Homo sapiens: one gene and its partners. Changing the gene in region 4 together with the main gene of any one other region gives a genetic interaction. Each region holds a gene or a part of one and is shown on either strand. Other genes may lie near its edges.

The links.
Region 1: changes in PTP4A3 (region 4) and MYOM2 together harm fitness less than expected from each alone (positive genetic interaction), as found in Homo sapiens cells (one study listed by BioGRID).
Region 2: changes in PTP4A3 (region 4) and DDR2 together harm fitness more than expected from each alone (negative genetic interaction), as found in Homo sapiens cells (one large-scale study listed by BioGRID).
Region 3: changes in PTP4A3 (region 4) and DTWD1 together harm fitness less than expected from each alone (positive genetic interaction), as found in Homo sapiens cells (one study listed by BioGRID).
Region 5: changes in PTP4A3 (region 4) and MAPKAPK2 together harm fitness more than expected from each alone (negative genetic interaction), as found in Homo sapiens cells (one large-scale study listed by BioGRID).
Region 6: changes in PTP4A3 (region 4) and NPEPPS together harm fitness more than expected from each alone (negative genetic interaction), as found in Homo sapiens cells (one large-scale study listed by BioGRID).
Region 7: changes in PTP4A3 (region 4) and POU2AF2 together harm fitness less than expected from each alone (positive genetic interaction), as found in Homo sapiens cells (one study listed by BioGRID).

Annotation. Positions count from the first base shown.
Region 1 is NC_000008.11:2,089,673-2,093,817, forward strand, and holds part of MYOM2 (myomesin-2), read left to right. Parts: intron 1-335; coding exon 336-519; intron 520-2,673; coding exon 2,674-2,848; intron 2,849-4,145. UniProt on the Homo sapiens protein: Major component of the vertebrate myofibrillar M band. Binds myosin, titin, and light meromyosin. This binding is dose dependent.
Region 2 is NC_000001.11:162,775,190-162,779,334, reverse strand, and holds part of DDR2 (discoidin domain-containing receptor 2 precursor), read right to left. Parts: intron 3,684-4,145; coding exon 3,492-3,683; intron 3,200-3,491; coding exon 2,965-3,199; intron 756-2,964; coding exon 606-755; intron 1-605. UniProt on the Homo sapiens protein: Tyrosine kinase involved in the regulation of tissues remodeling. It functions as a cell surface receptor for fibrillar collagen and regulates cell differentiation, remodeling of the extracellular matrix, cell migration and cell proliferation.
Region 3 is NC_000015.10:49,637,535-49,641,679, reverse strand, and holds part of DTWD1 (tRNA-uridine aminocarboxypropyltransferase 1), read right to left. Parts: exon of another isoform or gene 857-4,145; intron 1-856. UniProt on the Homo sapiens protein: Catalyzes the formation of 3-(3-amino-3-carboxypropyl)uridine (acp3U) at position 20 in the D-loop of several cytoplasmic tRNAs (acp3U(20)).
Region 4 is NC_000008.11:141,422,874-141,427,018, forward strand, and holds part of PTP4A3 (protein tyrosine phosphatase type IVA 3), read left to right. Parts: intron 1-2,174; coding exon 2,175-2,267; intron 2,268-4,065; coding exon 4,066-4,145. UniProt on the Homo sapiens protein: Protein tyrosine phosphatase which stimulates progression from G1 into S phase during mitosis. Enhances cell proliferation, cell motility and invasive activity, and promotes cancer metastasis.
Region 5 is NC_000001.11:206,691,145-206,695,289, reverse strand, and holds part of MAPKAPK2 (MAP kinase-activated protein kinase 2), read right to left. Parts: intron 1-4,145. UniProt on the Homo sapiens protein: Stress-activated serine/threonine-protein kinase involved in cytokine production, endocytosis, reorganization of the cytoskeleton, cell migration, cell cycle control, chromatin remodeling, DNA damage response and transcriptional regulation.
Region 6 is NC_000017.11:47,536,963-47,541,107, reverse strand, and holds part of NPEPPS (puromycin-sensitive aminopeptidase), read right to left. Parts: intron 1-4,145. UniProt on the Homo sapiens protein: Aminopeptidase with broad substrate specificity for several peptides. Involved in proteolytic events essential for cell growth and viability. May act as regulator of neuropeptide activity.
Region 7 is NC_000011.10:111,279,747-111,283,891, forward strand, and holds part of POU2AF2 (POU domain class 2-associating factor 2), read left to right. Parts: intron 1-1,651; coding exon 1,652-1,694; intron 1,695-4,145. UniProt on the Homo sapiens protein: Transcriptional coactivator of POU2F3. This complex drives the development of tuft cells, a rare chemosensory cells that coordinate immune and neural functions within mucosal epithelial tissues.

The DNA of each region.
Region 1 (4,145 bases), about 140 Mb from region 4:
TTATCTTTCATTATTTGCAGGTTAGTTCTATTTTGCTAAAACTACTACCTATGTATTGATTCCCTTATGTTTTCTATGGTTTAATTATTTACTTTAATGGAAAAAAATTTATTAGTAAACATGATCAACTTTGGGTATTTGTGACTTCCTTCTCCAAATTGGCATCATGTTTCATAAAACTCAAAAAAGATGCATGACCATCCTTTGTGTGCGAGACGCAGCGGGCGCGCCTGGTGGTCCTGGGATAGCGAGAACAGAGCATTTCTTCCTCCTCCACACGCCTCTGGGGACCTCGCGGTTTTCACTGCCAGTCTCGTTTCTGTTTCTCTTTGTAGTCCGTGGTGGGGAGCGGCAGCTGGCAGAGAGTCAACGCCCAGACGGCTGTGAGATCCCCGAGATATGCCGTGTTTGACCTCATGGAAGGGAAGTCTTATGTGTTCCGAGTGCTGTCAGCAAACCGGCATGGCCTGAGCGAACCTTCGGAGATAACGTCCCCCATTCAGGCCCAGGATGTGACCGGTGAGCTGTCACACTGGGTGGCCCCAAGTCAGGATGGACTAAGAGTGGGGTGACACCAAATAGCCTTAAATTGTGTGAATAAAGACATTAATGTTATAAACGAGTTGAAGTTCAAGTGGACTTAAAACTTCACTTTACGAGAGATTAAGAGCTCTCTGCCATGTTTTGTTTGGTTCTTGACATTTCTCCAAAGCTCCATCTTCTTTTCATGAAACCAGTAAGTGAGTTGAAAAATATGTTTAGGAAACGGTCACTTTTATTGTTTTATTTAAACTTTTAAAAAAACTTTTATTTTAGGTTCAGGGGTCCATGTGTAGGCTTCTTACATAGGTAAACTTGTGTCATGGGGGTTTGTTGTAAAGATTATTTCGTCACCCAGGTACCAAGCCTAGTAGCCATTAGTGACTTTGCCTGCTCCTCTCCCTCCTCCCACCCTAGACCCTCTGATAGTCCCCCGTGTGTATTTCCATCTATGTGTCCATGTGTTCTCATCATTTAGCTCCCACTTATGAGTGAGAACATTTGGTATTTGGTTTTCTGTTCCTGCATTAGTTTGCTAAGGATAATGGCCTCCAGCTTCACTCATATTCCTGCAAAGGACGTGGTCTTGTTCTTTTTTATGGCTGCATAGTATTCCATGGTATATATGTACTGCATTTTCTCTATCCAATGTCATTGACAGGCATTTGGGTTGATTCCATGTCTTGGCTATTGTGTGAATAGTGCTGCAATGAACATTCGCATCCATATGTCTTTATGGTAGAATGATTTATATTCCTCTGGGTATATATGCAGTACTGGGATTGCTAGGTTGAATGATAGTTCTTTTTTTTTTTTTTTTTTTTGGCTCTTTGAGGAATCATGACACTACTTTCCACAATAGTTGAACTAATTTACATTCCCACCAACAGTGTTTAAGTGTTCCCTTTTCTCTGCAATGGTCACTTTTAAAGTAATTCAAATTTTAAGTGCACTAGACTTTTTTGTTGTTGTCTTTTTTTAATTAATGCTTTTTTAAAAAAATTTTTGTTTTGTAGAGATAGAGTTTCACCATATTGCCCAGGCCAGTCTCGAACTCCTGAACTCAAGGGATCCTCCCACCTTGGCCTCTCAAAATGTTGGGATTCCAGGTGTGAGCCAGGGTGCCCAGCCAGGCACTAGAGTTTCTTGCCCATCTGGCTTGAAGGTCCCTCTTGGAAGGTTTCAAATACAAATTACAGAAATTTTGAATTGCAATCCCTGGAGTCATAACTCCTTCGTGGATGGCAGTTAACTAGCATGTAAGCGGAGGCACCCTGGAAATCCCCAGAAGCCTTCACGGGAGGCACATTGGTGTCAGGAACGCGGTTCTGAGTGCCTGGGTGCCCTCCACCCTCTCTCTGTCGTGTTTCCTGAGAAAGCCAGATACGGAAATGAACAAGGTCACGAGGCCGGCTGCCTCCAGGGCATCCTCAAGTTTCTATCTGGCTCTGGTTTTAACTGAAGCTCTTAGAACTCATACCCAGAACCACAGGCTTGACAAGACCAGCTGTCTTTGAGCAAGGCCCTGCCTTCTTGTGCTTTATGACACATATGAAAAATGACAGTGTCCATCACTGAGACACACTGTGGGGTGTGTGGCCCAGGTGGCCGGCACGGAGGACACAGGTGGCCCCAAGGCCTTACCTGACCTCAGTCCGCAGTCCACTAGTGGGGCCTGGCACCACATGACAGGATCTGATGGTTAGGTCATGATCGAATTTTGAGTGCCCCTCGGAGATTTCAACAGATCTGATAAAATTGAGTCTTACTTTCTTAAAATTGGTTAATTTCCAGTCCAAAAAATAGTTGTTACCCGGGTAGCCTCATCCCTGCTGCCAACAGAGAGTCTTTTAAACAGCTCTGATGGGAGACAGGAGGATTCAGGATGGATGTCATCCTGTGTCTCTAGGAGTTGTGTGGAGCTTGGGAAGAGATCAGAGAGACCAGCACCTCCCAATGGCCCTCGGGTGGTCGGCCCGGGGCTCCTCTCCTACTCCTGGACCCCTTGTCTGAATTTCTTCCAAAGCCCCCAGTCTGGCTGTCCAGTTCCCTGTGAAAAGGGCCGGAAGATCTCTGCTGTAGCTTCCAAAGCTCTGATGCCATTTCACCACTCCTTTTGTCTCCTACGAAAAGTTGTCCCTTCTGCTCCGGGTCGGGTTCTTGCTTCCCGAAACACCAAGACGTCGGTGGTGGTGCAGTGGGACCGACCTAAGCATGAGGAGGACCTGCTGGGCTACTACGTGGACTGCTGTGTGGCCGGAACCAACCTCTGGGAGCCCTGCAACCACAAGCCCATCGGATACAACAGGTGCGGCCTCCCTCCCCAGCCCTGGAGTCAGCCTTGCAGGAGTAGCAAGACCGTTGAGGTCCCTGTGGCCCTGGCACAGGGAGTACCATGGCCGCAAGGCTTCTGCGTAAATGAGTCTGTCTTAGCCACACACAAGGGCTGTATAATTTTAAAGTTTGACCACTTGGATGAGCTAGTTACTGCACTTGCTCATGTCGACCGAAACGATTTATTTATGGATGAAAGGAGAGTTCCAGAACCTGTTTTTTTTTCCCCTGACATAATTAGCACTTAGGCCTTTTCTTTGAATAGCAGAGTTAAAAATAGTGACTACGATGTGAAAGTCGTTTTATTTTTTTCGTATTGATTTTTTTGAACTTGAAAGTTGCTTTGTTCATGTGCCTGGTAGTTCTATTCCCCAGCACCTGATGGAGACCCCACCGGGCGCCGACTCTTCGCTTGTGGTGGGGGCAGCCTCGGGGGATGCTGGTTGCTTTGCAGGGGAAAGCCAGTGACCCTGCCTTTGGAGAGACTTGCTCCTGCTGCCTGCTGAGTGTGCAGGGATGTCTGAGGTTATTAGGCTTCTCTGCGATACGCGTCTTAGGAAAATGTCAGCAGCTGTCAGAACCACCCTTGTGGATAGATGATCAATTATGGCTCAGCCATTTCTCCTTTTAAAATCTGAAAAAAATACACTGTAAAAAGTGGTGGCTAACAAGAAGAGATGTCATTGAAAAGAATAACAATTAGATGTTCTTCACAGCCCACAGCAAATGCAGAAAGATCGATCAGAATAAGAAACTTAAAACATGATTCCAGTACAGGGAAATGGTTAGTGAATATTTATTGACTATATATGATAAATAATAATTGCTTACACGGACTGAATATCTATCATACACAAAGCATCTGTGCTAAGTTGTCCACCTAGAGTTTTCCATGTAGTGCCTGCAATAGTGCTGTGGGGTGGGAATTATCATCCCCATCTTACAAATAGAAAAACAAAGTCTTACAGGGGTTAAGGAGGTTGATTAAGACCATAAAATCTGTGAGGTTTCAAAGCCCCAGTATTCGAGCCTAGTCCATCTGACTTCCAAGTCTTGGCCTGTAACCACTGCAGTGTAATTACTGCTAATTAAGTTTTACATACACGGGTTCTTTTAGATAAGAAATGGCATACTGTTGGATAATAGACCTCTGATCCAGAGGAGGCCCAGAAAGTACAAAAGCAAAGGTGAACTCACAGAACAAGTGGCTTTGGCACCACGTGTAGTCAGCTCCTGCTATAATTAGGTGCTGTGACCTTACTGTCGGACTC
Region 2 (4,145 bases), on a different chromosome or scaffold from region 4:
TTAAATCTAAGCCACCCAAAAAAAAGCTTGGAGTATCTTGGCTAGGAATTGAGACTCCTGGGGAGCTTGGGAACTCATCTTTCCCTGAGTCCTGAGATGTCACAATACTGGGCCCAGAGATGCCTTCCAAGAGCAACAAGTTTAGGATATATCTGCCCATTTTCAGACATCCAAGTCTAGAAACATTGCTAGATAGTCAAAACCAACCCCATTTCTTATACTAAGCTATATTTTTAATGAATGCTAATACATCCCTTTTACACTTTTATTTTTTGACCCAGAAGAAAAACCACATGGTCTAGATCAAGAAATAGATAAATCATGAGAGATAGGACTTTGTTTCCTGCTACCTTTGAGCTGGGGAGAAACCTGACATGACCCTTTATGCTCTCCAAGAGTCAATGAGTTGACACATAGATAAAGCAAAGTGTATGGATGCCTGGGGAGGATACTGGTCTTTCACATCATCTGGATAGTTAGTGACAAAGACTAACACCTGGATAGTCTGTCTTCCATCTCGGCCCACTCCTGCTAAGGCAGGACTTGCCATTCTCCATCCTTCAAGGTACACAGGTCCACATCCATTCATCCCCAACAGTTCTTACCTGCCTCCCTTGGTCTCGGAAGAACTCTCCAGTATTCTCAATAACCTGTTCATCTGACAGCTGGGAATAGGGCTGTTCTTGACAAAAGGTGAAAGTCTCCCACAAAGTAACCCCAAAGGCCCACACATCACTTGCTGTAGTGAACTTGCCCTATTTAAGTAAAGAAAAGAATGGGAAATCAGAATAACCTGTGCACAACAACACCCTGTTAAATTTCATAATCTGCAGCTATACCCCTTCCCCCACCACAGGCAAGGAATTCTGAAAATGCCAAGATGTGCATGGAGTATTTAGAAACAGCCCATTCTTTCATTCTCATGATCTCAGCTTGGTTCTGTTTCTCTGGGGATGAGATCCAAGAGCTGAAAAAAACGCAGCCATAAGCTATTTGACTCTGCAACTGAGTGTTAGGTCAACCTTTCAACTCTAGGGTAGCCTTGGGAAAATGCTCCTGAGAAAGGCAAAATCTGAATGGGAAGTCAATGGTTTTTATGTTAGAGATAGAGGAATCTAGTTTAAGTGCCTGCAGTGAATCCAGGACTCTCATTTACCAGTTCAGTGATAATCACAGTGTTGAAAGATAGACTTTAACAAGTGACAGCAATGAGATTCAGGTGTAAATAGCATGCATTGACTACTCACATTTTCTACTCAATACAGACAACCACACTGTGAAGTGGATGATATTATTTATTATTAAATATTTTTTCCTTTGAGAAATGGGGTCTCATTATGTTGCCCAGCCTGGAGTGCAATGGCCAGTCACACGTTTGATCTCATTACTGATCAACACGGGAGTTTTGACCTCCTCTGTTTCTGACCTGGGCTGGCTCATCCCTCTTTAGGCAACCTGGTGGTCCACTGCTCCTAGGGGTGACCATATTAATGCCAGACTTAGTGAGGACACCCAATTGTCATAGCGCAGCGCAGCCCAGATTTTCATCCTCCTGCCTCAGCCTCCTGAGTAGCTGGGACTACAGGTACATACCACCATGCCAGTTATCCTTATTTTTTAGATCAGAAAAATGAAACAGGAGAGGTTTCCCAAATTCTTCTGGTTAATAAGACCATTAGTAGTGGAAAAACTGGATTTGAACCAAGGTCCTCTGAATGTCAGTCTAATATATTGTTTTGAACACCATATAATACCTTTAGGGAGAGTAATGCCTAACTATCCCATTAGAAATGGGTAAAATATAGCAATTCACATATATAGGTGAAAAAGATCTTTATAAGGATTTATGTAAACTGGTGTACATCACAGCATCATTCATAATAGCAGGAAATTGGAAAGTACTTAAATATCAAATTATAGAGGCATTATTAAGTTATAGTATATATCTACACATGGAATATTATGCAGATAATAAAATGTTAAGTTAAAAATAGAGATAGAGAATTGTATGGCATAGTGTCATCCCAATTATGTAATATAAATTACATATATGTACATATGTATATAAATGCATGCACAGAAAAAAAATTGCATGCATAGAAAAAATATATGTATAGAAAAAAATCCTCTAAGAAAATATACCAAAGTATTGATAGTGGTTATCCTGGTGAGTGCAAGGGAATAACTATACATTTTTTATTTCAAAATTAATTTACAAATCCTATAAGAATATTAGCAGGAAATAAGCAGATTAATCATAAATGAACAAAACCAAATTGGTCTCAGACTTTTCTCTGCAATGTCACACAAGAAAAAAGATAAAATAACATGTACATGGCATTGTAGGAAGTAAAAGTGTATAGTCTAATGAGTCTATAAATCAGCTGAGTGGTTATAAAATCAACAATAAAAAGTCTCAGGTATGCATGGACAGAAAATATACCTCTAATAGAGATATTTGGGAAAAATTACTCACTTATGGTATGGAATATCAAGAATCAAATAAAAATTATAAAGCAAAGAATGATGAACTTAAAAAGAACATGTTGAAAAGTATTGAAATACAATTATAGGAATTAGTCTATGTAATTATGAGAAACATGCTTATGAAACTAATGGAGAAGAAAATATTTTGTATAGGTAACATTTCTTTAAATGATAAGGTTTTTAATATCTTAAATTAAGAACAATCACTAGGTAGAAATGATAAAGAGAAACAAAGATAATAAATCTCTTATACTTTTTAACTTCTCTCCCTAAATTTTTATGTGTGTTAATTTTTTAGCAGAAATAGGCAAGCATTAAATAATAAGAATTAGTACACAAAGAAAATAATTTCAAATCAGAGAAAATACTACAGTCTATTGAGTTTGCCTCCTGCTGTCTCAGGTTTGTCTCCACGTGTCATGCATGTGAGCCCACAAGCCAGTTGTTAGACAGGGCTTTAAAATGCTGAGAACTTACCAGCAAGATACTCTCCCAAGACATCCAGCGGATAGGGAGCACTGCCCGGCCCTGGATCCGGTAATAGTCACCACTGTACAGGTTCCTGCTCATTCCAAAGTCAGCTATCTTGATTGTGTAGTTCTTACCCACTAAACAGTTTCGTGTGGCCAGATCTCGGTGAACAAAATTAAGAGAGGAAAGGTACTTCATGCCAGAGGCAATTTGGGTAGCCATAAACTTCAGATTGGTGTAACTGAGGAAATAGACAAGAAGACAGAAGGTAGCCTATGGAAACAGGAAGATGTGAAAGGTACACATTCTAAAATGGTATCAACAAACTAGGGTTGAAAGCTCAACATTCTTTCTCTACTCTTGATGAATCCCTTGCGTTTCCCCAAAGGGCAGCTGCTCCATTATTCCCTGCACACTGACTTCCCCCACCATCCCAGAACATTGATACACTTTAAGGCTCACTGCTCCCTATTTTCAGATCCCAGGTTACTCTCATGACCACAGGGAGGAGAAGGAAGACCTGGCTTGTTTACCTGACAGTGCGTACATCGCTGGAGGAAGAATTAGGGGGCTCGTGGCGGGAAAGAAACTGATTGAGATCTCCATTCTCCATGTATTCAGTGATCATACAGAGAGGGTCATCAGTGATACACACAGCTAATAGATGGATGATGTTTGGGTCCTTGAGCCGAGACATGATCTTTATCTCCTTAAGAAAATCATTCCTTGGGAGGATACAGACATAGATAAACTCAGAAGTTGCCAGAGTCAGAATCAAGAGAGAGAAGAATGCACACCAAGGCCTATTCCTGGACATTATGCCAAATCTTGTTTCCCTTTGGATAACTTTTGAGAGGACAGAGAAATTGACACCTGGATCTGTCTCATTCTATTCCTCCTGAAATATCATGGGCCCTTATTCAATTGTAATGTTTTTGAGAACAAGATCCATGACTTATTCACATTTCTATCCCTCACATCTAACAAAATCCCTGCCACACAGAAAGTGATTAATATTTGCTGAATCAAAAATAGGCTGCTAAAAACCACTCTACAGAGTAAAATGTTTCACTGAAAATCATATCTTAAGTGCACGAGGATATTTACCTTTTTTTTTTTAAAGCCATGGAGTCACTCTATTACTAGTGAAGAAACTTTGTATGATGTGAACAACCATCTTTGGCTTA
Region 3 (4,145 bases), on a different chromosome or scaffold from region 4:
CCTATCACGAAAAAAGTGATAAACATTTAATAGACAAATGAAAACTGAACATACGCCAACAAGAGACCAAATTAAAGGAATTCCTAAAGGATGTATTTGATAAAACACTGAGTAAAGAAAATGGTAAACATCTATGCAAATCCAGATAAATGTTGCCTGTATAAAACAAAAACAATAATAATATCTAATTTGTAGACTGACAATAAACGACAGACAAAAATAATGATATTAACAATAACAATGTGAACCAGGAGGAGGCTGAATGAAGCTTCAGCATACAAAGTCCATACAATGTAAAAAAGGAGAGGTTAAACATTGTTTGGCTTTGAACTTTTTAAGTGATATGGGCAATTCTCTAAAATAATTGAAATAGGAATAAAAATAGAATAAGAAAAAACCTCAATCAAAAAAAGAAACAAAAATTATAAAAAAGGACAAATAGAAATAAAAATTAAGATGGTAGAAAGTAGATCCAATTATTTCAATACTCACAGCAATTGTAAATAAACTAAACTTAATATTTAAAAGACATAGATTATCAGATTGAAACGTGAGAAGGATGACCCCTACAATTAAATAACTGGCTTCAATTAAATATTGCATTAGAGGTCTTTCTTATTTAACATAGTAATAAAGAACAATAAATTAATTAGAAGGATAAGAACTGGAAAGAAATGCAATTGGCATTACTTACACAGAAAATACAAAAAACCTCAGGCAAATCATTAGCCACATAGTATCTTGCAGAAGAGAAGGATTCAAACAAGACACAAACATAGTGATAAATTCCACACTAAAAGTTTTTTTTCCTCAAAAGAAAAGAAATTGAAAAGATGAACCACAAACTGCAAGAAGATATTTTGCAACATTATCTATATTCTAGAATATACAAAGAATTTCTACAAATCAATTAAGATAAAACACAGAAAAATGGGCATAGATATTTCACAGAATAGGACACGTATATGGCCAAATAAACAATGTAATTATCAATCCTATTAGTAATTAGAGAAAAGTAAATGAAGATGACAATGAGACACCATTTTAAAATACTAGGTTGGCAAAAATCAGACATTTGATAATACCAAGGTAGGAGAGATTATGGATCAATGGAGCGCTTATACATTAATGATGGAAATATTCCTTTGTATGTCCACTTTGAAAAACAATTTGGCATTATCCTGTAAAGGTGAATATTCTCATACTCAACAACTCAGCAATGTGACTCCTAGGGATGTTTCCTAGAGGAGCTTGTACTTGCACAAGAATGTGTGTAGTAGCATTATTTGCAATAGGAAAAACTAGAAATAACCAAAGTGTTTCATTAGCAGGAAACCAGATAAACTGTAGTATATCACAGATATTATTCAGCAGTGAAATAGAATAAACTATAGCTACAGTGATATGACAATATATATAAACCCTAGAAACAAAATGTGACTTTAGAAAGCAAGTCCCAAGAAAACAACACACAGCTCAAAATAAAGCAAAACTAAATCATATATAGTTTATGAAAACATATATATAACACTATAATCTAAAAAAGCATAATTCAGGAAAATAACTGTCAGGGGAAGAAGGGGAATGGCACAAGGGAAAACATAGGTAAATGGAAGTTAGAAATACTGGTGCTTGAGTTCTTAATTGTTCATTATATCACTATGCTTTATAACTTAATGTTACATATACGTGTGTGTGTGTATATATTATTTCATATGTATCACAATTTATTTAAAAATATAAAACAGTTAAAAACAAACAAACAAAACCTCTTTGCTTATTTAGTGAAGGAATTGGAGCTTGAAGTCATGTCCCAGCCCAATTCTTTCCATTAGACTTAAAATACAATCTAATCATGTCAATGACAAGCTTAAAAATTTTTTAATGATGCCACAGCACTATGGATAAAAGAACAAATGCCCAAGCATGCTGAATAAAATATGACATTCATAATTTGAATTTCTCCAGTCTCTTTTACCATTCTCATATATGTATGCATTCTAGACAACATTAAATATTTCAGTTTCTTGAATGCAAAATATTTTTTATACCCTAGTATTTCTAACAATCAGTAACTTTATAATAAAATTATAGTAAAAATCGTAAACATTTTTTCTTGAGGTGGGATTTTGCTCTGTTGTCCAGGCTGGAGTTCAGTGGCATGAGCATAGCTCACCGCATCCTTGAACTCCTGGGCTCAAGCAATCCTCCTGCCTCAGTCTCCCAAGTACCTAAGACTACAGGTGCACACTACCACGCCTTGCTAATTACTTTATTTTTTGTTGAGATGTAGGCCTTGCTATGTTGCCTAGGCTAGTCTAGAACTCCTGTGTTCAAGTGATACTCCCACCTTCATCTCCCAAAGTGCTGGGATTACAGGAATGAGCCACTACACCTGGCTCAAAACTAGTAAAATATTTTAGCAGTAGAAACTTAAAGTAGATAATTACAAATGGCTTTTCCTTCCAAAAGTGCTGCCTCAGTTTCTTCAATTGCAAAGTGAGGGTGACATCCTTTACCTCATATATTTGATGTGAGGATTGAATAAGGTAGTATAGGACACAGCACTCACTGACAGGGAGTGTAGTTTAGGCAAAGCTTATAATATGAATAAAGTTATCACTTTAAAAGTTGTATCAATACAGTCAAACTGAAGGGAAAGAGCTGGCTAATTTTTATAACCAATTACAGTATAATGCCATTTAAATATAATTTGGACTCACATCCAACAAAAAGAAACAATGTCTCCCCCTACATTCTGCCAAGGCTTCCTATGATAAATCTTTAAGAATGTTATATCATTCTTCACCTGTAGGTTTAGGTTTACCTTTTATAATTAAATTAGGCACTCTACCTTCAAGTGTTTTATTTTGACACTGGTAGAACACACAGAGCTATTTTTCTGTAAAAATTTGGCAAAACAGTAAGGTTTTACATTGTTAAAGGGATTCTTAACCTCAGCATTCATAGTAAAATAATGGAAACATAATTTCCAATACACCTGAGGGTTTAATTGAGGTATAGACTCAGTTTGTTCAGATTAATCTCACGAAATGACGAAGTTTTAAAGCCTAAAGCCAACAATTTATAAAAACCATGGATTGTTTCTTATGGAAGTAACTCGGTTTATTCAGAAATCAGTATTTCACATATACAGAGGTTATAGATATGTATAGAGCCCTAATTGTTTCCTGTGGTGCAATGAAGAGCCACAAAGGACAGGGGTTGAAGTAGGTCATGCAGAAAACTTGCCTTTAGAAATCTGTTCCTTTTATGATTTTAAAGAGATTAAGAAGCCCCTTTAAAAATTTTTGATCTAGCACAGAACTGAAATATATGATACTTTCCATGTGAATTGGGAAGGAATAACAAAAATCTTTTGTACAAATCTGATTTTAGGCAAGCCAAATTTGGACACTCTGAAAAGAGATTTTGAATAATACCACAATAATTCCTTTTATAGTTTTGTCAAGGGTTTTTACTTATGTTTTTTCATTTATCTTTTCAATTACCATATAAGGTAACTATAAAGAAAAATGGCTCAGAAAAATCTTCAAACTGGCAAGTAACCTGCTGCTGTAAACATCCACAGGAATGTGGCAGGCAGTGTTCCCTTTCTCTCTTTCAAAGAGCACAGCCTTAGGGCTTAGGCGTTTGTCTTTCTATCAAACATCGGCAACAAAATTTCTTAAAGATCTTATGCTCCGTAGTACCTGCCCTTCACTCTCTCCCACACACATAAGACACAAAGCGCACACAATTAGACTTTCAAAGCAACTTTACTAATGTGTATGAAGATCTCAGATGCATAAACTATATAAATTAAGCTCGTTAAATCTAGTGTTGTCACTCACTTCAGCTTGGAATTAATGAACACCAATCAGACTCCAAAAAGTGTCAAAATGTTCTTTTCTAGATAATGCACATTTTTAACACTAGCCTGAGAGAAGCTCTCCCAGTTTGAAACAAACTGTTTTAGCAACTGCCTAATATCAACTGAATAGCTTTCTTGCCTTCTAATCATACATGGACAAGTAAAGTAACTGTTTTAAATCACTATTATTAGGAACCAAGTTTTTCACTCTAAAAGAAATAAAAATCCTTATAATGTTAAATATGAATTGGAACTATCTGTGTGAACTCAT
Region 4 (4,145 bases):
CCGCTGGCAACCCTGGCAGATGGGACGAGATGCGTTTACAGAAGCTTTCTTGGGAGTGGAGTCTGGAGCGACCTGCATGGCCTCCTGGAGGAGCCTGGCCTCTGCAGAACGCCCTGCTGTTTGCAGGCCTGGGGCCGTTTGCAGCGTCTGCAGTTGTGTGCGGGGCCGTTGACAGAGCCTCTGACTGTGCCAGGCTGTGTGAGAGGCTGCAGCTGTGTGCAGGGTCATTTATGGCTGAGTCCTTTCCCCTGTGACATGAGATAAGCCATCATGGTCTTGTCATAATGAAACAGATTTGGGCGTGAGAGGGCATTAAGAACTGTAGAGCAGCAGGAGGCATTGGGCACCTTGCCATCAGGGAGCCTGGACCCTGGACACTGAGCCAGGTGCCCTACAGAAGATGGCTGTCCCTCTCGCAGCTGAGACCCCTGAGATAACAGCAGCATCTACAGAAAGATTGGCGAGAACAGCACGGTGAGTGGCCAGGGTGAGGCCTCAGAATATGACTGGGATCAGGGTTAAGTCTGTAACCAAGGTCAGGTCTCAGTGTGTGACCAAGGTTGGGGCTCACTGTTTGACCAGGATCAGGGCTCTGTGTGACCAGGGTCAGGGTTCGGTGTGTGTCTGGGATCAGGGCTCAATGTGTGACCAGGGTTGAGGCTCAGTGTGTGTCCAGGATCAGGGCTCAGTATGTGACCAAGGTTGGGACTCAGTGTGTGTCCAGGATTAGCGCTCAGTATGTGACCAAGGTTGGGGCTCAGTGTTTGACCAGGATCAGGGCTTAGTGTGTGACCAGGGCCAGGGTTTGGTGTGTGTCTGGGATCAGGGCTCAGTATGTGACCAGGGTCGAAGCTCAGTGTGTGTCCAAGATCAGGGTTCAGTGTGTGACCAGGATTGAGGCTTAGTAGGTGAGCAGGGTTAGGGAGGGCTCATCCTGTGACCAGGGTTAACGCTTAGTGTCTGACCAGGATCAGGGCTCAGTGTGTGACCCAGATCAAGGCTCGGTATGTGACCAGGATTAGGGCTCAATGTGTGACCAGGGTTGGGGGCTCAGCACGTGATCAGGATTAGGGCTCAGAGGTGTGTGACTATCAAGGCTCAGGACGTGACCAGGATCAGGGCTCAGTGTGTGACCAGGATCAGGAAGGGCTCAGCCTGTGACCAGGGCCAGGGCTGAGCCGTGGGCTGGGTGGCCATTCCCTCTGCTGAGGGTGCAGAGGGCCTCTGAGGTACCCCATGGCCACAGAGCCCAGCACCCTGCCTGCTCCCTGCATTCTCAGATAGTTGGGTGCTGGCCTCTCTGTGTTCCAGGTCCCTGTCCCGTGACCAGCAAGACCCATCAGCTGATTCCTCACCCCTCCCAAAATAGCTACGAGAGCAGGTGGGGTGGGAACAGCCCCCGCACGTGACCCCTGTGGAGTGGATCCTCCGCAGTGGGGGTATAACTATCGGCCTGGCTGTGAACTACCACCACCTTTTCCCTGGTCGTGTGGGGCTTCCCTGCTGGCGTACAGGGCCCAGCTTCCTCCTGGCTGCCATCTGAGCGGTGCCCACCCTCCCTGCTCTGAGGCGCCCCAGCTGATGCCCGCCCCTCTTAGACCCTAAAAACTGGACCCATCCCTGCGGCTCAGCTGGGGTCGCTGTTCGGATGCAGGGGCTCACACGTGGGCTGGGGAGTCCAGTTCCTGCTGTGGGGACCCAGTAGCTTTTCTGGAAGAAATGTCCTTGCTGGTAGATCTGGGGTCCTGAGCACCCCAGAGGAGGGAGTGGTGTGCTGGGCAGCTGGGGTCCCAGCTGCCAGTTACCGTGAATGTAGGTGGGGACACCTTTGCCTCTGCTGGGTGGCCCAAGGGACCTAGGACAGGCTCTTCGACAGCCAGACACTACCTCGACCAGTAGTGGAGCCTGAAGTCCACTCTTGGTGGACCTCACTGCATCAGGGTCTGCCTGGCTGGAGGGTGACATGCCCTTCCCTGGGGGCTTCAGGGGCCATGACCCTGCCCCAGGGGACTGAGGGGACAGGGCTCCACCCCGAGAGGTCTGAGGGGACATGTCCAAGTCCTGGGTGACTGTGGGGGACACAGCTGTGCCCTGGGAGCCCTGGTGAGTGGGTCCTGCCCCCTGAGCCCTGCAGCCCCAGCCCAGCCCTGCCTCCTCCGTCCTCCCACCCCCAGGACCTGAAGAAGTACGGGGCTACCACTGTGGTGCGTGTGTGTGAAGTGACCTATGACAAAACGCCGCTGGAGAAGGATGGCATCACCGTTGTGGTGAGGCGCGCGCCACGGGGACCCTAGTCACTGCTGCCACCGGGGGAGGGTGGGGCGGGGGGCTCCGGGCCTGCGCAGAGGGTTTGGTGCCCCTCCTGTGGCAGCCCTGGGCATGTCTGTGCCTGGGCCACGTGTGTGTCTGGGTACATCAAGGGAAGGCCAGGGTGTTGGGCCGTGTGACCTCAAGAAAGTCACCCTTGCGCACCCGTCTTTCTGTCTCTAGGGTGGGCCAGCACGGTTCGCCAGGCAGGGGTGGCACATGCTTGGTGCATCGGCCAAGGTGGCGGGTGGGCTCCTCTGCCTGTCTCAGGCCCTCCTCTGGGCCTGTCTTGGGTGCATCTCAGTCTTGCTGCCTGGGCGGCTGGGGCCCTGTTGCCAGGCAGCAGGCTCCTGGGGAGGGCCCTTGGGCAGTTTCCTCGGCTTCTTTGGCCCTGGGGACCCAGGTCTGGGCGGGGGGTGGGGCGGTTCTGCTGCGATATCCTTGGGGGGGTGGGCCACAGCAGCTGCAGGCCCAGAGCCAGCCCCAGGGGGGTCCACCCCCGGCCCGGTGGACGACTGCCCCCCTGGTGCAGGCCTGCCCAGCTGCGCCTGGGCCTCAGTCTCCTCAGTGCGGAGCACCCCTCAGTCACTGCTTTTCATCCCAGGACTCTGCTTTTGGCTGGGGTTGCAGTTTTGTGACCTCAGCTTGGCGGTTTGGAATGGTGGCAGCGCTGGCGGTTTGGGGTCAGACAGGCCTTGGGCTGCGTCCCGCCTCTGCCCTCCCCAGCCTTGCGACCCTGCAGGTCACTCCGAGCCTTGGGTTCCTCACCTCAAAGCGAGGCTGCTTGGAAGAATGGGAGGCAAAGGCATGTCCCCGCTTCTCGCACGGGGTGCGCCCACACCCTCCCTCCCCTTCCACAGCAGCGGGAGGGATTGGGGTCAGACGTAAGTAGCCGTGACACCGGTTGTCTCTAGGAGTTGCCCTGCCTGGAGGCTGGGGAGGGGTGAGATGCCCCCGAGGGCTGTGTGTCTGCCTCAGTGGGCCCAGCGGGCTCTCCCTGGTACCAGACAGCCCCATGCCTGGCACAGTCCCTGCATGAACCCGCCTTCCCAAGACTGAAACGTGTCCACTCCTACTGCAGCGCCCTGGCCCGGGCCCTCCCCTAGGAAGACTCACGTTGCCCACCGATCTAGGGCGCTGGGGGACGGGACAGTGGGAAGCACAGGTCATCTTCCAAGACCAAATTAACCCCCAGGAGCAATGGGCCGGGGCCCGGTGGAACCGCCTGTTTCGAGTCCTGCCCTCAGAAATGTGGGCCCTGTCTCGCCCCACAGCCCTGTCTTCAGTCCTTCCTGGCACCTGGGCTGTGTGTGGCATGTGCCAGCCATCTTTGCATGCCAGCACAGGGGATGAGACCCTTTGCACCAGCCGACCCAAAACCTCTCAGGCTGCCACCGGCACACAGGCGTGAGGGATTGTGACCCCAGAACCAGAGCTCGGGCTGACAGGTGTGGGGATTAGGATTTGTGCGACTCTGGAGCAGGCTCTATTCAGAAAGGGGTGGGGTGGTCCAGGAAGGCTTCCTGGAGGAGGGGATAGCTGCAGTGTACAGGGAATGATGAGGAGTCTGAAGCACTCACCATGGGGTGCCCATAGGCAAGCTGTGCCCCTCCTGTGTGCCCTCTGGGTCTGCTGCCCCCACCCTAGTGGGCTCCTGGCACCCTCTGCCTCTCAGAGCTCCCTTTCCTCGCCTGAGCCCCAGAGCCGCCTCTCTACCCTCCCTCAGCCGGGGGTCCTCATGTCTGCTTCCCTCCGTAGGACTGGCCGTTTGACGATGGGGCGCCCCCGCCCGGCAAGGTAGTGGAAGACTGGCTGAGCCTGGTGAAGGCCAAGTTCTG
Region 5 (4,145 bases), on a different chromosome or scaffold from region 4:
CTTCCATAGCTGAGGGTTCTCAGAGTTAGCCACATGTTTCAACCACCCATCCCACCCCCTACTACTCTCTATTCCTTCTCTCTCTGGTTACACCTCAAACCTAATTTTATTTTCTTTTAAAGTATCCGAGCCCAGGTAGCCAAATCAAATGCATAAAGTCAGGAAAGTCTGAGACCCAGGAGAGGGGGCACTGCCACCCTTCCTCCTCCTCTCTGTGAGCACAGGTCACTAAAGCACATCAGGGGAAGAGAACACAAAGGGTATGAAGTCACTAAGAGTCGCAGGTGGGCTCTGCTGGAAAGGACATGATGCTCGTGAGCCTGGCAGTCAGAGGGAATGACAGCACTTGGCGTGTCTGCAAGCGCAAGTGTTTCCAGGGCAGGTTACTACATATGCTCATTTTCTCCCTGTGGCCTCCCCATCTGCCAGAGATCTGGGTGCCTGTAAGGATGTAGAAGGTATGGGATGACCCCTTGCTGGGCTGTCCAACTCAGCTGTGCAGCCAGGCTGCTCTGAGCTGCAGGGCACATGCAGCCTCCTCATCAGGTCACCTGCATTCCTAGAATTCTCCAAGTTCCAGACACACGGCCTTTAGTGTCCAGGGCTCTCCCCGCAGGACCCTTTGAGCTCTGCAGAAGCCAAGCATGACGAGCAACCTGCAGATTCCTCACTTAGAGAAGCTAGCCTTCTCCAGCTCCCGTGAAGCCTGGCCTTTAGAATCCTACTAACCTTCTTCTAGGAATCACAGAAGCCAAGGAAGGCAGTCGGGATAGGGAAAGACAGAGGGTATGGCTATTCTGAGGACAGGGGCTCCTTCTGTCAGAGTTAAAAATAAACACTTAGCAACTATGCCCAACTCTTCCTCTGCACAGGCCAATGGGCCTTGGCAGATAAATCTTTCCTTGCAGAGGAAATGTGGCCCCAGGGGAGAGGTGGGAGAAGGAGGCCATCGACACATGGTCAGAGTATGTAACTCTAGCTGAAGGCAGTGGGTTCCTCAAGTCCTATGTCTTGGTTGTCATTGCCATCACTCTCCACCATACACCCCTTCCCCCAAATAAACCATAATTCCTGAAAGCAGACATAGAGCCCTCCTAGGCCACGATTAGTATCAACACCTGTCTAGGGATTAGAAAAAATCAGAAAGAATACTAACGCCACGCTGAAGAACAGAATGCCAATGTCAGACTCTGCCCAGTATCTATCAGCTAAGCAAATATTCTAGCTACCTGAGCCCCTTTCCTCATCTTGCTCCACAAGTCTCCAGGATCCCTGGGGAGTAGAGGAAGAGGCCACACCTCCATGGACACACATCAATACTGCAGTCAAGAGGTAGAAGAAACCCATGCACTCGGTGACATTCTGCATGTGGCTGAGCTGGAAGGGCCAGAGGTGCCATGGCCTGACTCAGGAAGGAGATCCTGAGAGCCAGGGCCCAGTTATTCTTGGACGCTGACAAGATGAGGTCACACTTTTGAATGTGGTAGCCCAAAGCCTCACACTGCGGAGGTGGAGAATATAACGTAGCAACAGGGCAGGAGTACACGGTAGGTAGCATGCTCGGTGACAGGGCAGTCGGGTTGAAGGCCTGGGGCAGACTGCCCATGTGGGGCTGTCCTAGCATATAACTATGGTAACTCTGTTACCATAACCAGGTAACTCTGGCAAAGAGGCCTGCTTGGAGGTAAAACTGGAGGAAGCCAGGGCTGGAGGCGAGCACAGTAGAAGGTCTGATCCACTCTGATGAGCTTGGTCACTCTCCTTTTTGTCTAACCCTTTCCCTACTGGGAAATAAGCAGGACAGCTTCACGGAGCTTTCATACACACAAATCTAGACACCTGGAGACATAAAAACCATAGCACGTCTCCCAGCACTCAGAAGAGTGAGTTAGCCCCAAATCACCTACCAAGCTCAGGCTGGAAGAGAAAGGGGCAAGCAGGGAGAATATCAGCAGAAAGTGAGAGAAACAGGTCAGCGGTGTGGCAGGAAGCACTGGGACAGCTAACAGGGCCTGGCTGTGAGGGGAGACTGCAGCAGTGGCAGGTTTATTTTTAGCTGTTCGGCAGAGGGGCTGAGTAACAGTTCTGGGCCCTGGGCAGGAGGCCAGGCTGCTAAGGTCCGGTGTGTACTGAGAGCCTCCTAACAATGTGGATCATTAAAATGGCAGCAAACGAACAACTCGATCTTCTCCCTGTAGACAAGCAGGAGGATAAGGAGCCCCGCCGGAGGACGAAAGTGGAGGAGTCGGCAGGGGGACAGTCAGTAGATCTCCTGTTCAGCCCCTCCCCTCAGAGAGACTTCACCTTTGCTTCTGGTTCAAAAGAATCTTCATGGAGATGAGCCAGAGAGAAGGCATCAACAGTACAGCTCCCTCAGCTCCCTCATATGCTCTGAAACAGAAAAGGCTCCCATCGGGTGGCCACTAGCTTCCGCCTCTGGCCACCACTCTTCACCTCTAAGATGAGTCCTGGATGGACACTGGCCACAGAGATGCTTGGAAACGTCCCTCAAGAATAAGATGCCCTTTCATATGACCCTTTTGGAGGGCTCAGGTTCCCAGCAGAATGAGCGCACAGCTTGGCTGGTCTTGGAGGAGAACACCAGATACAAATATGGGCTGACCTTGGGGCCTTGTCCCAGCTCATTCTGGCACACAGAGGTGTTTACTGATCAGACAATAAAGACCCCAAGAACCTTTCACTGCCAGAGGCCCAGCCCAACTTTATGTCTCCTTCTACTGTGGCTTTCTTCCTCCTCCCACCAAACCTGATGGCCCAGCACACAGGACCCCACAGTCTAAACCTCCGGGGCTGAAACAGCTGCTCTAGCCTTGCATGGGCAGGAAGAGGAGGAAAGAGAACAGACATCACCAGGCAACCCCTTTTCCTCCTGCTTCCTTGGATTCCTGATATCTCTTCTTACTCAGCCTGGTCTGAGGGGCTGAGGGTCACCTGAATGTAAATCCTAATTTCCTCATCAGCTCTGTGAATCAGTCCCCAACTCTAACCTAAGAACAACCCCTAATCCATAACCATACCTTTGGTGAATTAGAAGGCACTCCTTTGAAAGAACCCAGCCACACACAAAGACAAAGCCAAGCAAGGAGACAGTGGCTGGACTTCAGCCTTCGCTTAGCTCCTCAACCAGATCCCTGTGCACAGGGAACAGCCTGCACCAGAAATCACAGTGGCCCTCAAATGCCCCATAACTTGAGAAAGGAATCTCAAACAGGGAATAGAGTTCCTCATCTCTACTTTGCACCACCACTACACTATGATTCTTCTGATTTTAAGGAAAGAGAAGATGCACACCCTGCTAAATTACGTAGTCTATCCTCTCTGCCGAGTCACCAGCATAGAACACTTTCTAAGTCTTCACACAAGAGAAGGAGCAGCTGGTCAGTGATGATTATTCATTAACTGGACACAGGCTGCCCTGGAGCCAGGCACTAAGCTTACGAAAGGGCATCTGTGCTGACCCAGATACTGCTGATGGTCAGACCCGGAGCAAGTCAGCAAGCTATCCTGCCTGCCCTCCACCTCTGGCCTGCAGCACCGCCTTCTACTGCCTCACCCTGCCGGTGCTCAGGAGCTGCTCGAGCCGACCCTCTGTGCAATGAGGCCTGGAAAGTTTAGCTGACCTATTCAAGGTCATGTAACTTGTTAGCAGCATACAAACACTGGAAGCTTTCTATTTATGTATGCACTTATTTTTGCTTTCTTATCTAGCACATAACCCATGGTAACAAGCTCATCTCTACATATCTATATCTGTGTATGTGTGTATATATATATATATATATATATCTTAAAATACAAAATACCAGTATTTTCCTAAAAACTAGAAAAGGTACACAGCAATCTGATTTGGGTTCTATAACTGCCATACGTTATTACACTGTCCAGTGACATGGCCCCTTCTCTTCACCAATGCCCCCATTTACAAGGTAACCCATGTGGAAAGATCCTAGCTGATGCGTTAGTGGAGCTCAGTTTTGCTCCACCAGGTCTACAGTCTTCTAGCAACCAAAAACCAAAGGGGCCCAGACCAAGAGCAGGTCCCAGGGAACCAGGTCTCAAGATGTGGCTCGGATGCTGACACCATGTAAGACCTTGGACATGCCACTGAACATTTCTGCACTAGG
Region 6 (4,145 bases), on a different chromosome or scaffold from region 4:
AGAAAGTATTTGTGCATTTTGGAAAGGCACCATGCACAACATCCAATTACAAGTACCTTCCAACTCCTCCTGTGTTTAAGGGAAACTCATCTATTTATACTAATGAATTAAGCTGTTTCTTGAATTGTTACTAATTTTTTTTTTCCAGGATACTACCATTTCTGGAAGGGTGGGAGGGAGGAACCAAAGGAACAAAGGTACTTATCTTAAAAATAGAAATCCATTCACATTTTAAAAATTGGTCAGCATCTTGTCTTATATTAGAGATGCACTTATTTAAAAAGTTGACCAATAATGGGATAATCTATGTAAAGTCTCTGTTTTAGCACTTAGTGCTTCATATGTAGTCATCACTTAATAGATGTTAAGACATACACATACACACACACAGGTTAAATTGTGCTCTCATATCATCTAACAGCATTCACCTAACAGTTTATAAAGCTTCTGATCAGAATGATATGAAGTTTAAAAACTATGTATTGTATTATATGGCACTTTGGATATCAGCACATGTGTACTACCCCAAGAAGGTAATTTAAAATATCTGTTTGGACATAAGTGTATGTGCTGACTACAACGCAGTATAACACTGCTCATTGTGATGCTGCTCTTCCAAACAGTAGTGCTGACCTGATGGTGTAGTACATGATTTCCCACCTTTGACACCTTCATGTTAGTAAATATTAGCTGTGTGTTCCACTATCAAAAAAACAGGTAATAATTCAAAGAAATTTCAGCATTAAAATCTTCAGTTTCCCAGTTTAAAACACAAGTGAAACAAGGTTGGCATATAAAAGTGCACTGATAACAAGCTCATTTTCAATTTTTCTACTTGATGTTATTAAAGGATAGAATGTTAGTGTATCCTTGCTTTGTTTCAAACCCAGGATTAAGTCTTCTTGGCCTCCTATATAGACTGCACTTCAACTGAGCCAAATACTAAGTAAGGGCTGTACCAAAGAGGCAGCTTGACGCCTGGTAACAACTTTACAATGGAAGTTTCCTATGAGATAGGGAGGCAGAAATCGGAGATAACATTTTCCTGAATGAGTCTTTACTACAGTCACTCAGGAACATATCTTACATGTAAGATAGTAAGACTCAAGAGGGTTTTTTTCTGATTGTCAATGTCCTGAGATTTCAGTAAAAGAAAATCTCCAGTGTGACAATTCCAAATGCCAGTCTGAAGCCTGAGTCAATTTGCCTAATAAAACTGATTTCACCATTAAAATAGCAATAATTGTTGCCTTGGTGGAACAGTTCTATAATAGCTAAAGACAAGAAGAAGCAGATAATTAGTAAACTCAAGTTGAGCCAAGTTTTCTAACAAGAAACATTGAAAAGAGCCACTTGCAGAAGGTCAAAAATAATTACCATTAATGTAAAAATGCAAAAGGCACAGAATATTGGTATGTGATGTTTGTGGCTACTAATATGCAATTAAAGTTTTAAACTATACATAGGAATAAAAAGGAATAATACGCACCTACCTGAAGAAAGAAGTTACTTCTAGAGGCAGGGTGGGACGAGATGGAAATGGGCTTTAGTGATATCTGTGACATTTTATTCCCCCCCCAAAAAAAGCATGCACAGTCTGATGAAAATGGGGCAAAACGTTAACATCTGTTTAATCTCATAGTGTGTGACTTTCTTGTATTTCTAAAATATTTCCTAATTTAAAATAAAATTTTAAAGAGATTACAAGTGACCAAATAAACCAAGGACCACATACTTGTATGGTGTTCAAAACGAAATCACTAAAATCTAGAGAACTAATCTCAGTTAACAAAAGCCATCCGAAGGCTCAGATATTTCCCACTGACTCACATACAGATTAGAGTAAGATTTACTTCACAATAAGAGCAGGCTCATTTATGTGGCAAAGTTCGGAGAAGCTTCACAGATAATTTACTACTCAAGACCACATTTACCCAGGTTGTATCAGAGTATCAGTTGTATCTAGAACCAGGAGGCTAAAAAGAAAAAAGAAAAAAAAAAAAAAAAGGCCTAGATGAAAAGCCAAAATAGGTGATACAAAGTCCGTACAATAAAACGCATACCCTTTACTCAGAAGAGAATCCAACAAACTCTCACACAGCAATTGATTTTTTAGCCCAAACAAGCTTGTTTATCTGGCTACTAAGGCTTCTTCAGATGAAGTTCAGTAAAATACAAGAGGGAAGAAATTGCACAACAGGCAGCAACAAGGCACAATAAGCAGCAAGAAGAACATGAGAGTAAGGAAAACAAAACAACTTTAAAGAACAGATACAGGCTGGCCGGGTGCGGTGGCTCAGGCCTGTAATCCCAGCACTTTGGGAGGCCGAGGCGGGTGGATCACAAGGTCAGGAGTTCGAGACCAGCCTGGCCAATATGGTGAAACCCCTTCTCTACTAAAAATTCAAAAATTAGCCTGGCATGATGGCAGGTGCCTGTAGTCCCAGCTACTTGGGAGGATGAGGCAGGAGAATCGCTTAAACCCGGGAGGCGGAGGTTGCAGTGAGCTGAGATCACGCCACTGCACTCCGGCCTTGGCGACAGAGCAAGACTCTGTCTCCAAAAAAAAAAAAAAAAAAAAGAAAACAGATATGGACTAGGCGCGGTGGTTCATGCCTGTAATCCCAGCACTTTAGGAGGCAGAGGCAGGCGGATCACCTGAGGTCGGGTGTTTGAGACCAGCCTAGCTAACATGGCGAAACCTGGTCTCTAGAAAAATACAAAAATTAGCCAGGTGTGGTGGCATGCACCTGTAATCCTAGCTACTAGGGAGGCTGAGGCAGAAGAATCCCTTGAACTAGGGAAGTGGAGGTTGCAGTGAGCCGAGATCGCACCACTGCACACTCCAGCCTGGCCTAGGCAACAGAGTGAGACTCTGTCTCAAAAAAAAAAAAAAAAAAAAAAAGAACAGATATGGCTAGGCGCGGTGGCTCACACTTGTAATCCCAGCACTTTGGCAGGCGGAGGCAGGCAGATCACCTGAGGTCAGGAGTTCAAGACCAGCCTGGCCAACATGGTGAAACCCTGTCTCTACTAAAAATACAAAATTAGCCAGGCGTGGTGGTGCATGCCTGTAATCCCAGCTACTAGGGAGGCTGAAGCAGGAGAACTGCCTGAACCTGGGAGGCGGAGGTTGCAGTGAGCCGAGATTGTGCCACTGCACTCCAGCCTGGGCAACAGAGCGAAACTCCGTCTCAAAAAGAAAAAAAAAAGAAAAAAAAAAACAGATATGAAACTGATAAATTATAGTACATAGTTTGGGGTCAATGAGAGATGTTCAAAATAAAGTTCAGTATTTAAAAAAAACAATGAAACAAACCTACACTATGAGGAATTGCAAAGCATAAAAAGATAATGTATTTTAGAAATATTTCCATTCAGATTAGTCAACTTTTTTTTTTTTTTTAAAGACAGGGTCTCGCTGTGTCACCCCGGCTGGAGTGCAATGGCGTGATCTCAGCTCACCGCAACCTCCGCTCCTCCGCTTCCCGAGTTCAAGCAATTCTCCTGTCTCAGCTTCCCGAGTAGCTGGGATTACAGGCATGTGCCACCACGCCCGGCTAATTTTTGTATTTTTTTGTAGAGACGGGGTTTCACCATGTTGTCCAGGCTGGTCTCAAACTTCTGACCTCATGATCCACCCACCTCAGCCTCCCAAAGTGCTGGGATTACAGGCGTGAGCCACCACACCCAGCCTAGTAAACTTTTTTAAAAATGTCTAAGGGCCTCAAAGGGTAAACTTCAGTTATCTGGAAAATTCACTGCAGAATTCATTGCCAGATGAATTAGACAAAGCTTAGCATACAAAACTGTTATACTTCTTTCCTCACAGATACATTTCAAAAAACAGAAAATCTGAACAAATTCAATTCCTTATCACCAATATTTTGAATTTAATTTTATATATATGAATTTTTTTTAAGAAAATTTCTTCCTTTTTTTTTTCCTGGAGACAGGGTCTTGCTATGTTGCCCACACTGGTATCAAACTCCTGTGCTCAAGCAATTCTCCCACCTCCACCTCCCAAAGTGCTAAGATTACAGGAGTGAGCCACAGTGTTGGCCAAAATGATTACATAGAAAATATGCAGAAAATGGCCAGGCACGGTGGCTCATGCCTGTGATCCCAGCATTTTGAGAGGCCAA
Region 7 (4,145 bases), on a different chromosome or scaffold from region 4:
ATTAAGGTATCAATATAACTTTGGGTGGCTTATGCCTGAAATTCCAGCAATTTGGGAGGCCGAAACAGGTAGATCACCTGAGGTCAGGAGTTCGAGACCAGCCTGGCCAACACAGTGAAACCCATCTCTACTAAAAATGCAAAAAGTAGCCAGGTGTGGTGGTGCGTGCCTGTAATCCCAGCTACTCAGGAGACTGAGGCAGGAGAATCACTTGAATCCGGGAGGTGGAAGTTGCAGTGAGCCGAGATCGTGCCATTGCACTATAGCCTGGGTGAGAGAGTGAGACTCCATCTCAAAAAAAAAAAAAAAAAATATATATATATATATATATATATCTTTTGGAGGGGGCACATAATGCAACCCACCACATTCCCCAACCTCTCCCTGCTCTCTAGCCTGTGGGTTCTTTGAAGATTGTGTCTTCATTCCACATATTTTTCTTACGTCTATTATGAACTACACCCTGTTCTAGGCACTGAGGGCACATCACAGTCAAGGTCCCTACAGTTGGTGGAGCTTCTTCCTCCACATGGATTCAGACAGTAAACATTGAAGTGGCCCTTCAGTGCTGAAGCCAAACACTAAGTGCATGTATGCACATACACACATACAGTAGGCGCCCCTTAGCCATGGTTTCCCTTTCTGAGGTTTCAGCTACTCATGGTTAACTGCAGTCTGAACATACTAAATGCGAAATTCCAGAAATAAACAATTTCTAGATCTTAAATGGCATGCCTTTCTCAGTGGTGTGATGAAATTTCATTCAGTCCCACTCTGTGCTGCCCAGGACTTGAATCTTACCTTTGTCCAGCCAATCCACACTGTCTACACCACCTGCCCGTTAGTGTCTCAGTAGCCGACTCAGTGATTGGATCACCTGTCTCTGTATGGCAGTGCTTGTGTTCAAGTCACCCTTATTGTATTTCACAATGGCCCGAAAGCACAAGAGTAGTGACACTGGCAATTTAGATATGCCAAAGAGAAGCCGGAATGTGCTTCCTTTAAATGAAAAAGTAAACGTTCTCAACTTAATAAGGAAAGAAAAAAAATGTATGCTGAGGTCAGACATTGGTATGGTAAGAACAAATCTTTTGTCTGTGAAATTGTGAAGAAGGCGAAAGAAATTCATGCGAGTTTTGCTGTTGCACCTCGAACTGCAAAACTGTGGCCACAATGCATGATAAATTCTTAGCTAAGATGGAAAAGGCATTGAGTTTGTGGGTGGAGGACATGATGGCAATCAGGTGTGGTGCTATCCTCAGTTTTAGGAACCCACTGGGGAGTCTTGGAACATATCCCTCGTGGGTAAGGGGAGGCTACTGGATATGCGTATATATAGTCACTTAATATATATTGGATGAGGGAATGTTAACTGGAACAGTAGAAGATGAAGGATAAATTACTACATTTCATCCAGCCAGTGCTTTCTGGCATGTTTATCAAAATGTAAAAGTGTGGTTGCTCTTTGTCCCTTGTAAAACTTTGTTCTATGGTACTTGAATTCTTATTCTCAGTTGACCTGAGGGTCAACCCAACTCCCCAGATAATACTTCTGAATATCATAAAACCAAGCTTATAAGGTGTATTCCTAATTTTTATTAAATTCAAACTTACAACTAAAGAAAACACTTGAATTCTGTTTACCTTCCAGGGCAGCGTCAGTTCCTCTCAGTCTCCATTTGTGCAGATGCCAGGTGAGTACTTTAATTCAATAAGCAATTATTCCCTTTTGAATTTAAATCAAGCATCTGGGCTTCCATTCTTTCATAACGACCTTACAACACTTCCAAAACTCTGCTCCTTTAAAATAGTTTTGTCTAAAATACAAAATCAGCGAAGGACAGAACTCATGCAGTAATTTCTGAATTTAAAATTCATTTTGTCTTGAAAGCAGCCCTTTTATCCCAAGCTTTTGGGGCAAAGGCAATATAAATTATGCCCTTGATACAGTTTTAAATTGTCTAAAGTTCTGACACCATGATCTGATAGATGAGGCATCTGCTTTCAAACAGAAAGGGGAAAGCCGTCTGCGAGCAGAGGGAGTCAGGCATTTGGTTCAGTATTTTGAATTCATTTCAATGCCTATGTCTCATTAAATACTCCTGTGGGGATGTAAAAGGGGAATTCCTAATAATACTGTTGGACATTCTTGTATAAACACACACCACACAGGCAAAGACAATCTCATTTAGTTCAACTCAGACGCGGCACATTCCCTAATAGTTTTATCACCTTCAGAGCTGGATAAGGGAAAGGAATAAGAGCAATCGAGGATCCCGAATATTTAAATGTCTGTATGTTGTTTCCCAATCATATATAGTGCCATTGAAATTTGGTGGCATCTCCTGCCTTCTACAGAAAAAAAAAAGAAAAATTTCCATAGCTTCTCTTTATCTAGAAATTATCCTTTCTCTTTGTACAGAGAAAATCCATGCTAAGAGAGCAGAGGCTTTTTTCTTCGTGGTTGTTTTGATTTGGAAATTGGGAGTATAGATGAGAGCCTGGAAACCTTGTTTTCATATTCTCAACCTTAACCGCTCTCATAAATATAATTTCATTGTATGAAACAGAACCTTATTTATTTATATTAAGGTTCAGCTGCACAGATTTTTTCCCAAGGAAGTATGCTTATAATGAAAACCCTAACTTCAGCTTTCAAATGCATGAGCAGGTTAGAAGTTATAGAATGTAAGATGAAAGTGAAGTGAGTGGAGTCGTGCCACAGGTTTTGATGGGGAATTTTGATTTCTTCTTCTGGATGAATAAATTCACATGCCATTCTTGAACACAATGTTATACTACTAGGTTTAAAGAAAATGTATAAGGCATGAGATCTGCCCCCTTGGGCTCGCAGGTTGACTGGAAAGATCATTGTGACTCAGGTGAAAGAGGAATGAGCATAATATAAAGTGCCACATCCTGTGGAACGGGCTGGAATTCTGTGTCTATAGAATCAGAAGCTCAGAAGTGGTCTGCTGCTGTGGTTGGGGTAAGGTAAGGAAGACAGGCACTTATATCTTCTCCCCAGTTCAGCCTTTTTGTGACCTATGACCTAAGGGTGTTGGTGTTAGCATTAGATCACACCCAAGGCCAGCTGGAACAATTAAACCATCAGTTTTATAGACCTCAAGTCTATGCCCTCAAACATGTTCTGAATGATCAGTGTTTTCTGCTACAACTGAGCTACGGGGTCAGAAAGTGTTGAGCAAACACACCTTTTTCCTTGGAAACCATTTCACTGCTGGGCTTACCTTAAATGAAGCTCTTATCAGTTTCTGTCCCTCCCTCTCTCCACCAAGGAAAACTTTTTACTTTTTTTTTTTTTTTTTTTGAGACGGACTCTTGCTCTGGGCGAGATCTCAGCTCACTGCAACCTCCACCTCCCGGGTTCAAGTAATTCTCCTGCCTCAGCCTCCTGAGTAACTGGGACTACAGCAGCTGTGATTACAGGCATGGTGGCCCAGCTGATTTTTGTATTGTTTTTAGTAGAGATGGGTTTTCACCATGTTGGCCAGGATGGTCTCAATCTCTTGACCTCGTGATCCGCCAGCCTGGGCCTCCCAAAGTGCTGGGATTACAGGTGTGAGCCACCGAGCCTGCACCACCAAGGGAAACTTTATGTAGCCGGCACTGTCTTCCTAAACGTGCTGGGCCCTGGTGAGTTGAGTGAAGGAGTCCATGAGGCCACAAGAGGGCAGCAAATAACATAAAACTCATCAAAACCCTAAAACTACAGGCCTCTAAAATTGGCTTCTGTGTGGCCATCTAATCCTAAAGAAAGTCATTTATTGATGTCTGCCAGGCGTGCGACCCAGTGTAAGGTCAATGTGTGAAGAATTAGAAGGCAGAGTACAGCCTGCCTCTTTGAGGTGGGGTTATATGTGTTACCTTATCCAGACATAGCGATCTCAGATAACAGGCCAGGAGCACCTCTTGTTAACAGTTCTATGTATATGGAGAGGTAGCTCCGATGTTGTGAAAAAGATGCTTCCTTGGTTAAAATATGAATGCCAAGAGATTATTTCATTTATGTCTTCCTAGCACAGCGCCGGTCACCGGGAAGGTACTCAGTAAATGTGAATGAATGAACAGACACGGTACTGTCTAAAATGAACTCACCCCTAAAGGCGACAATGTTTTCAAAC